3 separate regions of the Homo sapiens genome follow, and regions 1 and 2 are each reported to be linked to region 3. The links are microRNA targets in miRTarBase. Many come from high-throughput screens and were not tested one by one. Region 3 holds a microRNA gene; each other region holds the end of a gene's coding sequence.

Region 1 (3,341 bases), not on the chromosome of region 3:
TAAAGTCTTATTAGATTCACACCTATAAAAAGATGTTTGGCTATGGGACTGTCAGGAGAGAAGGGGTATAGAGACAGCATGAAATGGAGCCTGCTGCACTTTCTTTAAGGCTCTGCTCCTCCTGACAGGACTGGGAGGGCAACCTGCGCTACGCTGAGTATAGCCACTTTGTTTTGGGCAATGAACTCAACAGCTATCGCCTCTTCCTGGGGAACTACACTGGCAATGTGGGGAACGACGCCCTCCAGTATCATAACAACACAGCCTTCAGCACCAAGGACAAGGACAATGACAACTGCTTGGACAAGTGTGCACAGCTCCGCAAAGGTGAGATTTGGGGGGACCGGAAAGGAGAAGTTCAGGTACAAGCTCATAATCCCACTTGAGGAGAAAGAGTGAATTATAACTGTACAGTTGATATTCCGGTTTTGGTATTCTTTCTGACCCTGGCTCTAACTCCTTACCTGATGTCTGGTCTATCACAGTCAACTTACTAGCACTGGGTCTGTTTCTCATGCCAGGTGGCTACTGGTACAACTGCTGCACAGACTCCAACCTCAATGGAGTGTACTACCGCCTGGGTGAGCACAATAAGCACCTGGATGGCATCACCTGGTATGGCTGGCATGGATCTACCTACTCCCTCAAACGGGTGGAGATGAAAATCCGCCCAGAAGACTTCAAGCCTTAAAAGGAGGCTGCCGTGGAGCACGGATACAGAAACTGAGACACGTGGAGACTGGATGAGGGCAGATGAGGACAGGAAGAGAGTGTTAGAAAGGGTAGGACTGAGAAACAGCCTATAATCTCCAAAGAAAGAATAAGTCTCCAAGGAGCACAAAAAAATCATATGTACCAAGGATGTTACAGTAAACAGGATGAACTATTTAAACCCACTGGGTCCTGCCACATCCTTCTCAAGGTGGTAGACTGAGTGGGGTCTCTCTGCCCAAGATCCCTGACATAGCAGTAGCTTGTCTTTTCCACATGATTTGTCTGTGAAAGAAAATAATTTTGAGATCGTTTTATCTATTTTCTCTACGGCTTAGGCTATGTGAGGGCAAAACACAAATCCCTTTGCTAAAAAGAACCATATTATTTTGATTCTCAAAGGATAGGCCTTTGAGTGTTAGAGAAAGGAGTGAAGGAGGCAGGTGGGAAATGGTATTTCTATTTTTAAATCCAGTGAAATTATCTTGAGTCTACACATTATTTTTAAAACACAAAAATTGTTCGGCTGGAACTGACCCAGGCTGGACTTGCGGGGAGGAAACTCCAGGGCACTGCATCTGGCGATCAGACTCTGAGCACTGCCCCTGCTCGCCTTGGTCATGTACAGCACTGAAAGGAATGAAGCACCAGCAGGAGGTGGACAGAGTCTCTCATGGATGCCGGCACAAAACTGCCTTAAAATATTCATAGTTAATACAGGTATATCTATTTTTATTTACTTTGTAAGAAACAAGCTCAAGGAGCTTCCTTTTAAATTTTGTCTGTAGGAAATGGTTGAAAACTGAAGGTAGATGGTGTTATAGTTAATAATAAATGCTGTAAATAAGCATCTCACTTTGTAAAAATAAAATATTGTGGTTTTGTTTTAAACATTCAACGTTTCTTTTCCTTCTACAATAAACACTTTCAAAATGTGAGTATCTTCTTTTTAAATTCTTACCATTACCACTTACAGCAGGATAAAAAGTTAAAGTTAAATCAGAGGGTGAGCAGTGACAGAGGCCCGGGGTTTGTTTTGGTGTTCAGGGCAACCAAGCGGGGAGCAGAAGCCAAAAGGGAACAGGTAAGGGACAAAAGGGCAGCAACCAGGACAATTCTTCATAAAGGGGATTACACGTCTGGGGCTGGGCAGTGAAGGCATCCAGCCTTATCAGACCCTCTATTCTACTTAGGATAGAGAAGCAAAAACAGGCCAGCAGACCTTACCCTAATGCTCGGGGCTAACCAAGTAAAAGTGGTGTGTGTGCGCTTTCTAACAAATAACCACTCAATCCTCTGTCCCCAAGAAAGCAAATATATTTACTGATATGTGAGCTTTAAGGAGATGGGGGTAGTTTATACTATCTCAGTGTTAGCCCTGATTTGGGATTACATCTCGGATTTAATTTGCCCTGTAGCAGATAGGTTAAAAAAGTCAATAGGTTGCAAGACGGATTGAACTAGTAGCAAGAGAACAATACTGTCAACAGAACACAGTTTTTTAAAGCAAAGACAAAAAAATAAGAAATAGCTGCACGCGGTGGCTCACGCCTGTAATCCCAGCACTTTAGGAGGCCGAGGCGGGTGGATCACGAGGTCAAGAGAGTGAGACCATCCTGGCCAACATGGTGAAACCCCTTTCTACTAAAAATACAAAAATTAGCTGGGCATGGTGGCATGCGCCTGTAGTCCCAGCTACTTAGGAAGCTGAGGCAGGAGAATCGCTTGCATCTAGGAGGTGGAGGTTGCAGTGAGCCAAGATTGTGCCACTGCACTCCAGCCTGGAGACAGAGCGCGACTCCATCTAAAAAAAAAAAAAAGAAAAGAAAAGAAAAGAAATAGCTGAACAAAGATGTTTTTGTGTAGGGCTACCCTAATTGTTTCAAAAAGAATTTAGGGAAGTTGACTCAAATGTATATACTAAAATAAGCTCTGAAAAAGCAGACAACTTGGTGAAGGGAAAATAAGAGTAGGAAAAATAAAACAAAGCCTGTGGGGGTTGGGGGAGGGTTAGTAGTAAAAACAGGTAAGATGTCTGGAATTTGTTGGAGGTAGACCAGGAATTTAGCTTCAAGCTCTCTAGCAGCCACTGTGAGGAAGGAATTCAATCCCTTACTGCAAAGCGATGTCTCCAAGGCCAGATCCAAGTAGTGGCTCAGGGACATAAAACCAACAGTGGGAAAAGACCCCTGAGAAGAATTTCCATGAGGCTCACCCACAGAACTAGGGGTAGTGCTATGAGCAACTTTGTCTAAGGCTGTTTCTTAAAACTTCCTTCAGTAAAGACGACAGTATACCACCACAACCGGGCTTAGGAAAAGCAGCTTTACAAAATCAGAAGTAAAAACTGCAATTGGAAGCAAAAAAAGAAAGGTGATGGGAAGACACAGGAGACCAGCAGAAGGGAGGCAGAAATGCAAGCTGAGCTGACTTAGCTGAGGACACCCAAAGAGCCGAGCACACTGGCTTTCCCCAGTAACAGCATTCATTCATTCACTCATTCATTCACTTTTTTATTGAGACAGAATCTCGCTGTCATCCAGGCTAGAGTACAGTGACGCAATCTTGGCTCATTGCAACCTCCACCTCCCAGGTTCAAGCAATTCTCCTGCCTTAGCCTCTCAAGGAGC
Region 2 (3,341 bases), not on the chromosome of region 3:
CCTGTGAGACCTGGGTGGAGGCGGTGCTCCCAGAGCTGTGGAAGGTATGTTTGCCTCAGGGCCGAGATGGGGAGGAGGGACGAGCCACAGGCCTATTCCTTCAGGACCAGCCTCATGGAGGGAGCAGCAGGAGGGCCCCTGGGTAGAGAGGATGGGTAGAGTGGCACCCCTGGGTTTCAGGGTACCCCCTCCCCCGGTACCCCAGGCTGACCCCTAACTCCACACACCTCTCCTGCCTCCCTCACTTGCATCAGCACAGACATTTATCTGGCATCTCTTAACTTGGTGGGCACTGTGCTAGGCTCTCTGGGGTGGGAGTGGTATAGACATAGTGGAGACCCTTCCCTGAAGTGGAGCCCCAGCCCGCATTATCACTGCAGGGCCTCTATGGTTCTGAATCTGAGTCCTTTGAGACACATGAAACACCCAGGTGGGTGCATGCTGCAAAATCCCAGGACCCCCACCGCTGGGTTGCCCCCAGATGGTAGGGCAAGGGTCATCTGACCTTCTTTCACTCCTGGCCTAGGAGCACGAAGCCTTCTACAGCTCGGCCCTGTGCATGGTGAACCAGCCAAGGCAGCTGCAGCACCTGGCCCGACTAGCTGTGCGCGCTCGGTTGGGAAGCCGCTGCCGGCAGGGTGCCACCCGGCTGCCACTGCCCCCGCTCCTCAGGGACTACCTGCTGCTGCGTGTGGAGGGGTGCATCCAGTGAACCCCATGTCAGGCTGTCCCATGGTGTGTTCTGCCCCTCCCACCTGTCCCCGCCTCCAACTGCGGAGGACCAGTTCCTGGCCCTCTTTTCTTTTCTTTTTGAGACCTAGTCTCACTCTGTTGCCCAGGCTGGAGTGCAGTGGCGCTATCTCGGCTCACTGCAACTTCTACCACCTAGGTTCAAGCGATTCTTGTGCCCCAAACTTCCGAGTAGCTGGGACTACAGGCATGAGTCACCACACCTGGCTGATTTTGTATTTTTAGTAGAGACAGGGTCTCACCATGTTGGCCAGGCTGGTCTCACACTGACCTCAGGTGATCCACCCGCCTTGGCCTCCCAAAGTGTTGGGATTACAGGCATGAGCCACTGCGCCTGGTTGCCTGCCCCTCTTTTCTGTACTCCACGTGCTGTCCTGGTCCACCTCACTCCTCCATGGGCTTCTTGAGACACCTGCTGACCTCTAGCCGGACCTGAGCTTCAGACCCTCTCTCCAGCAGGAAGGGCTGCAGACTCGGCCTGTTCCCAGACTCGGCCTTCACCTCCCTTCTCCTCCTGTGTTTAAGTGGATGGCCCCTCTATCCATCCAGGTCCCATGCCAAGAACCAGTGATTCTAGTGGCCCACCACCTCCCTCTCCTGCCACCCTTATACCTGTTCAGCCTCCTAAAGAGGGACAAACTCTGTCTCTGCGTGCACTGGCTTGCCTGCCCTGCCTTTGTCACTCCAAGGGAGATCTTGAGACCCATGCCCTGAATTGGTGCTGGAATGGTCTTTGGGAGTCAAACTCTGATCATGCCCTCCAGTGGCTCCTCTCACACTAAAATCAAAACTCTTTAAAACAAGCTGAGTGCAGTGGCTTACACCTGTAATCCCAGCACTTTGGGAGACTGAGGCGGGAGGATCACCTGAGGTCAGGAGTTTGAGACCAACCTGACCAACATGGTAAAACCCTGTCTCTACTAAAAATACAAAAAATTAGGCCAGGCGCAGTGGTTCATGCCTGTAATCCCAGCACTTTGGGAGGCCGAGGTGGGCGGATCACGAGGTCAGGAGTTCTAGACCAGCCTGGCCAACATGGTGAAACCCTGTCTCTACTAAAAATACAAAAATTAGCCGGGCATAGTGGCGGATGCCTGTAATCTCAGCTACTCAGGAGGTTGAAGCAGGAGAATCACTTGAACCTGGGAGGTGGAGGTTGCAATGAGCCAAGATCGCGCACCGCTGTACTCCAGCCTGGGCAACAGAGCGGGACTCCGTCTTAAAAAAAAAAAAAAAAAAAAGTCTTCCGTGAGGAGCGCAGAGGAGGTCGCGGCGCCGGAGGCCCCAGAAGGCTCGAAGGCACCGCGGGCTGGGGTCGGTGGCTTAGGGAGCCCGTCTGGCCATGGTGGCCGCGGGTGGTGGTTGGCGCGGCTGCGCTGCGGCCCGGGGCAGTGCGGACTGGGACAGTCGCGGCGCTGACGCCCGCGGGCCCCAGCTGCAGATATGAAGCGGAGCCGCTGCCGCGACCGACCGCAGCCGCCGCCGCCCGACCGCCGGGAGGATGGAGTTCAGCGGGCAGCGGAGCTGTCTCAGTCTTTGCCGCCGCGCCGGCGAGCGCCGCCCGGGAGGCAGCGGCTGGAGGAGCGGACGGGCCCCGCGGGGCCCGAGGGCAAGGAGCAGCCGCCTGCCTTGGCCTCCCAAAGTGCCGAGATTGCAGCCTCTGCCCGGCTGCCACCCCGTCTGGGAAGTGAGGAGCGTCTCTGCCTGGCCGCCCATCGTCTGGGATGTGAGGAGCCCCTCTGCCTGGCTGCCCAGTCTGGAAAGTGAGGAGCGTCTCCGCCCGGCCGCCATCCCATCTAGGAAGTGAGGAGCGCCTCTTCCCAGCCGCCATCACATCTAGGAAGTGAGGAGCGTCTCTGCCCGGCCGCCCATCGTCTGAGATGTGGGGAGCGCCTCTGCCCCGCCGCCCCATCTGGGATGTGAGGAGCGCCTCTGCCCGGCCGAGACCCCGTCTGGGAGGTGAGGAGCGTCTCTGCACGGCCGCCCCGTCTGAGAAGTGAGGAGACCCTCTGCCTGGCAACCACCCCGTCTGAGAAGTGAGGAGCCTCTCCGCCCGGCAGCCACCCCATCTGGGAAGTGAGGAGCGTCTCCGCCGGGCAGCCACCCCATCCGGGAGGGAGGTGGGGGGGGGGTCAGCCCCCCGCCCGGCCAGCCGCCCCATCCGGGAGGGAGGTGGGGGGTCAGCCCCCCCGCCCGGCCAGCCGTGCCATCCGGGAGGGAGGTGGGGGGGTCAGCCCCCCGCCTGGCCAGCCGTGCCGTCCGGGAGGGAGGTGGGGGGGTCAGCCCCCCGCCCGGCCAGCCGCCCCGTCCGGGAGGTGAGGGGCGCCTCTGCCCGGCCGCCCCTACTGGGAAGTGAGGAGCCCCTCAGCCCGGCCAGCCACCCCGTCCGCGAGGGAGATGGGGGGGTCAGCCCCCCCACCCGGCCAGCCGCCCCGTCCGGGAGGGAGGTAGGGGGGTCAGCCCCCCGCCTGGCCAGCCGCCCCGTCCGGGAGGGAGGTGTGGGGGGTCAGCCCTCCGCCCGGCCAGCCGCCCCGTCTGGGAGGTGAGGGGCGCCTCTGCCCAGCCGCCCCTACTGGGAAGTGAGGAGCCCC
Region 3 (3,025 bases):
CCAGAGGACCACTCTGCCCATGCCCCTGCTGTCTTGCCTCCCCAGGAAACCTGCTCTCCCCAGCCCCTATGGACTGGGACATGCTGATGGAACCACCCTTCTTATTCACGGCTGTGCCTCCTAGTGGGGAGTTGGCCCCTCCAGCAGTGCCTCCCCAGGCTCCACGCTGCCATGTGGTGATCCGGGGCCTGTGTGGGGAGCAGCCCATGTGCTGGGAGGTGGGTGTTGGGCTGGAGACACTGTGGGGACCTGGAGATGGCTCACAGCCTCCCTCACCTCCTGTAAGAGAAGCTGCTTGGGACCAAGCACTCCATCGGCTGACAGCAGCCTCTGTGGTCCGGGACAATGAGCAGCTGGCCCTCCGAGGAGGGGCAGAGACCACAGCTGACCGGGGTGAGTTGCTCATGGGTCCAGTCAGGACCCAAAGGCATGGGCTAAAAACAGCAAAGGTAGAGGTCTGTGTGTTTGATCACTCTCTATACCTCGCTTTGATCACAAAGGATTTGAGGCTCATCACAGACAAGATAAAAAATTAAGCGGGACAATGGGAAAAAGTAAAAATAAAAGGAAACTGAGAATGAGGTTATATTAAAGGTGCATGCTGTGAGGTTATATACTCTTGCAAGGATCAGATCCAGAACTGACAAGCTTCCTAGCAGCCAGCACAGAGGGCAACGTGATCCTGTCATGATTCACAGCACCCACAACGTAAAAACAAATCTTTGTCATTTAGGAAAATACTTAAAGTTCATTTCCTCAGTTGCACTAACCACAGCTGAAGTACTCAATAGTCAAATGTGACTAGTGGCTACCACATTGGATCATGAAGAGAGAGAACATTTCCAAGTTTTATTAGTGCAGAAGCAGGTGGAGGAAAATGTGCCAGCTAATGCTTCCTCTGGGTGTTGTCCAGAGTGCTGAATTTCTGGGCAGCCAGGGGGCTCTTGCTCTGCTATGGGTTGAAGATTCAGCCTGATCACTTCTTGTCAAAGTTGGGGAGTCTGAGCTGGTTCTGGGCCTAGCAAGGCAATCTACTCTGTTAAAGTCGATAGAGGGAGAAGCTGGGGAGAACACTGCAATTTTTTCTATGAGCCCTCTGTAGAGGGTGGGTGGTGGGGGCTCCACAGACTGCTCCTTGGTTCCACAGGCCATGCCCGGAGGTGCTGGCTTCGAGCCCTTCAGACAAGTAAGGTCAGCTCTGCCCCCTCCTGCTTCACTTGCCCTGTAGCTGTGGATGCTACTACTAGGGAGGTCCTGCCTGGGGCCCTGCAGGTGTGCAGCTCAGGTAGGGGCCTCTTCTGGTGACCTCTCAGGTGCAGCTCTCACCTCACTGGCCACTCTCCTGGACAAACCTGACTCCTGTCCCATGTGCCCCTGCAGAGCCCGCTGAGCCCCCAGGAACCCCTCCTGCCTCTCACAGCCATCTAGATGCAGCTCCTCTGCCCACTGTTGTCTACTCTAAAGGTAACACCCAAAGGTAGGGAAAGGGTAGGGGCACTTGGGCTTAGAGACCGCCCCCTGGCACTGATGATCCCCACTGCAGGACTTCAGAGAGGCTCTCCAGCAGGCGCCTGGGACTCGGACCAAAATGGCAACTCCAAGCGTGCTTTGGGGGACCCTGCCACTCCCACGGAAGGTCCTCGCCGCCCACCTCCCCGTCCTCCCTGTCGGCTCAGCATGGGCCGCCGTCACAAACTCTGTAGCCCTGACCCGGGCCAGGCCAACAACAGTGAAGGCAGCGACCATGACTACCTGCCCTTGGTGAGGACTCGGGAGGTGGAGGGTGGTGCCGCCGGGGCCGGGCGCTGTTTCAGCTCGCTTCTCCCCCCACCTCCTCTCTCCTCAGGTGCGGCTGCAGGAGGCACCAGGCTCCTTCCGCCTGGACGCGCCCTTCTGCGCCGCTGTGCGCATCTCGCAGGAGCGCCTCTGCCGTGCCTCGCCCTTTGCCGTGCACCGCGCCAGCCTCAGCCCCACCTCGGCCTCATTGCCCTGGGCACTTCTGGGCCCTGGTGTTGGCCAGGGTGACAGTGCCACGGCCTCCTGCAGCCCGTCCCCCAGCTCGGGCTCTGAGGGGCCAGGCCAGGTGGACAGTGGGCGGGGCTCAGACACCGAGGCCTCCGAGGGGGCGGAAGGGCTGGGCGGCACCGACCTGCGGGGCCGGACCTGGGCCACTGCCGTAGCACTCGCCTGGCTGGAGCACCGATGCGCCGCTGCCTTCGACGAGTGGGAACTGACAGCGGCCAAGGCTGATTGCTGGCTGCGGGCCCAGCACTTGCCTGACGGCCTTGACCTGGCCGCCCTCAAGGCCGCAGCCCGAGGGCTCTTCCTGCTACTGCGCCACTGGGACCAAAACCTGCAGCTACACCTGCTGTGCTACAGCCCAGCGAACGTGTGAAGGCTGCCCCCTGCTGCTTGGGCTGGCGCCCCACCCAACACACTCAAGTCACTGCCGCCCAGGGCTGGCCTCTTGGTGCTGGGAAAGTGTAGGCTGGTGCCAGCCTGTCCCCCACTGCTTCTTACTCCCTCCCTAGAGCCCTCTTGCCCCCACAAAAAGTGCCTGCCTGTGCTCTCTCCCTCTCCTCCCACCCCACTCACACTCCCCTCCATCCTCTGAGCTCCCTGCAACACAGTGGAAGGGTAGAGAGCCACAGTCCCCAAATCCTATGCAATAAAGTGCCTCTTAGGACTGCTTGAGTGAATTCTTTATCTGCTCCATACGTGTCCCTCACAGCCTGGACCAGGCATCGGCTGCCCCCACCTCCATGTAGGTTGCACAGAGTTGGACTTAGCAAGGTTTATTTGGAAGGGCAGAGTCCAACCAACCCCAGGTCCTGAGGGTAGACTCAGGTCCTGAGGGAAAGGGGTGGACTTCAGTGGGCTTTCTTGCTGTGTTGGGTGCTCTTGGGGAAAGGCTGCGGGCCCAGCCAGAGCTGCAGCAGGATGACGGCATGGCATATGTGCAGGGCAGCAGAGCTGCAGGATGTGGAAGGGTATGTGTTCCAGGAGAGCTCGATGAGCCCCAGCA

Evidence for each region. Region 3 holds the annotated microRNA hsa-miR-1224-3p (CCCCACCUCCUCUCUCCUCAG, at 1,826-1,846, shown strand). A microRNA usually pairs through its seed, bases 2 to 8, with sites in the 3' UTR of a target mRNA and lowers its output. Matches are read on the target gene's strand: a 7mer-m8 pairs with bases 2 to 8, a 7mer-A1 pairs with bases 2 to 7 and ends in A, and an 8mer does both.
Region 1: miRTarBase lists ANGPTL7 as a target of hsa-miR-1224-3p. Seed matches in the 3' UTR shown: 8mer at 1,153-1,160.
Region 2: the mRNA of ASB16 is a reported target of hsa-miR-1224-3p. The part of its 3' UTR that is shown has no 7-base or 8-base seed match.

Annotation. Positions count from the first base shown.
Region 1 is chr1:11,194,333-11,197,673 of GRCh38, forward strand. ANGPTL7 (angiopoietin like 7) reads left to right here. Exons shown (of 5, transcript NM_021146.4): 4 at 129-327; 5 at 522-1,649. The coding sequence ends at 691. All of the region lies in intron 28 of MTOR (mechanistic target of rapamycin kinase), which reads right to left. Among named protein-coding and RNA genes, the nearest start is that of ANGPTL7, 6.6 kb to the left of the region's middle. RefSeq lists a silencer at 147-347.
Region 2 is chr17:44,177,679-44,181,019 of GRCh38, forward strand. It overlaps ASB16 (ankyrin repeat and SOCS box containing 16), which reads left to right. Exons shown (of 5, transcript NM_080863.5): 4 at 1-44; 5 at 527-1,406. The coding sequence ends at 712. The region is part of intron 2 of ASB16-AS1 (ASB16 antisense RNA 1); the gene reads right to left. Among named protein-coding and RNA genes, the nearest start is that of ASB16-AS1, 7.4 kb to the right of the region's middle.
Region 3 is chr3:184,239,644-184,242,668 of GRCh38, forward strand. It overlaps MIR1224 (microRNA 1224), which reads left to right and starts at 1,762; the gene lies at 1,762-1,846. VWA5B2 (von Willebrand factor A domain containing 5B2) reads left to right here. Exons shown (of 20, transcript NM_001390846.1): 16 at 46-393; 17 at 1,148-1,285; 18 at 1,381-1,464; 19 at 1,544-1,761; 20 at 1,847-2,686. The coding sequence ends at 2,395. It overlaps ALG3 (ALG3 alpha-1,3- mannosyltransferase), which reads right to left. Exons shown (of 9, transcript NM_005787.6): 9 at 2,658-3,025. The coding sequence ends at 2,871. RefSeq lists a silencer at 2,278-2,572.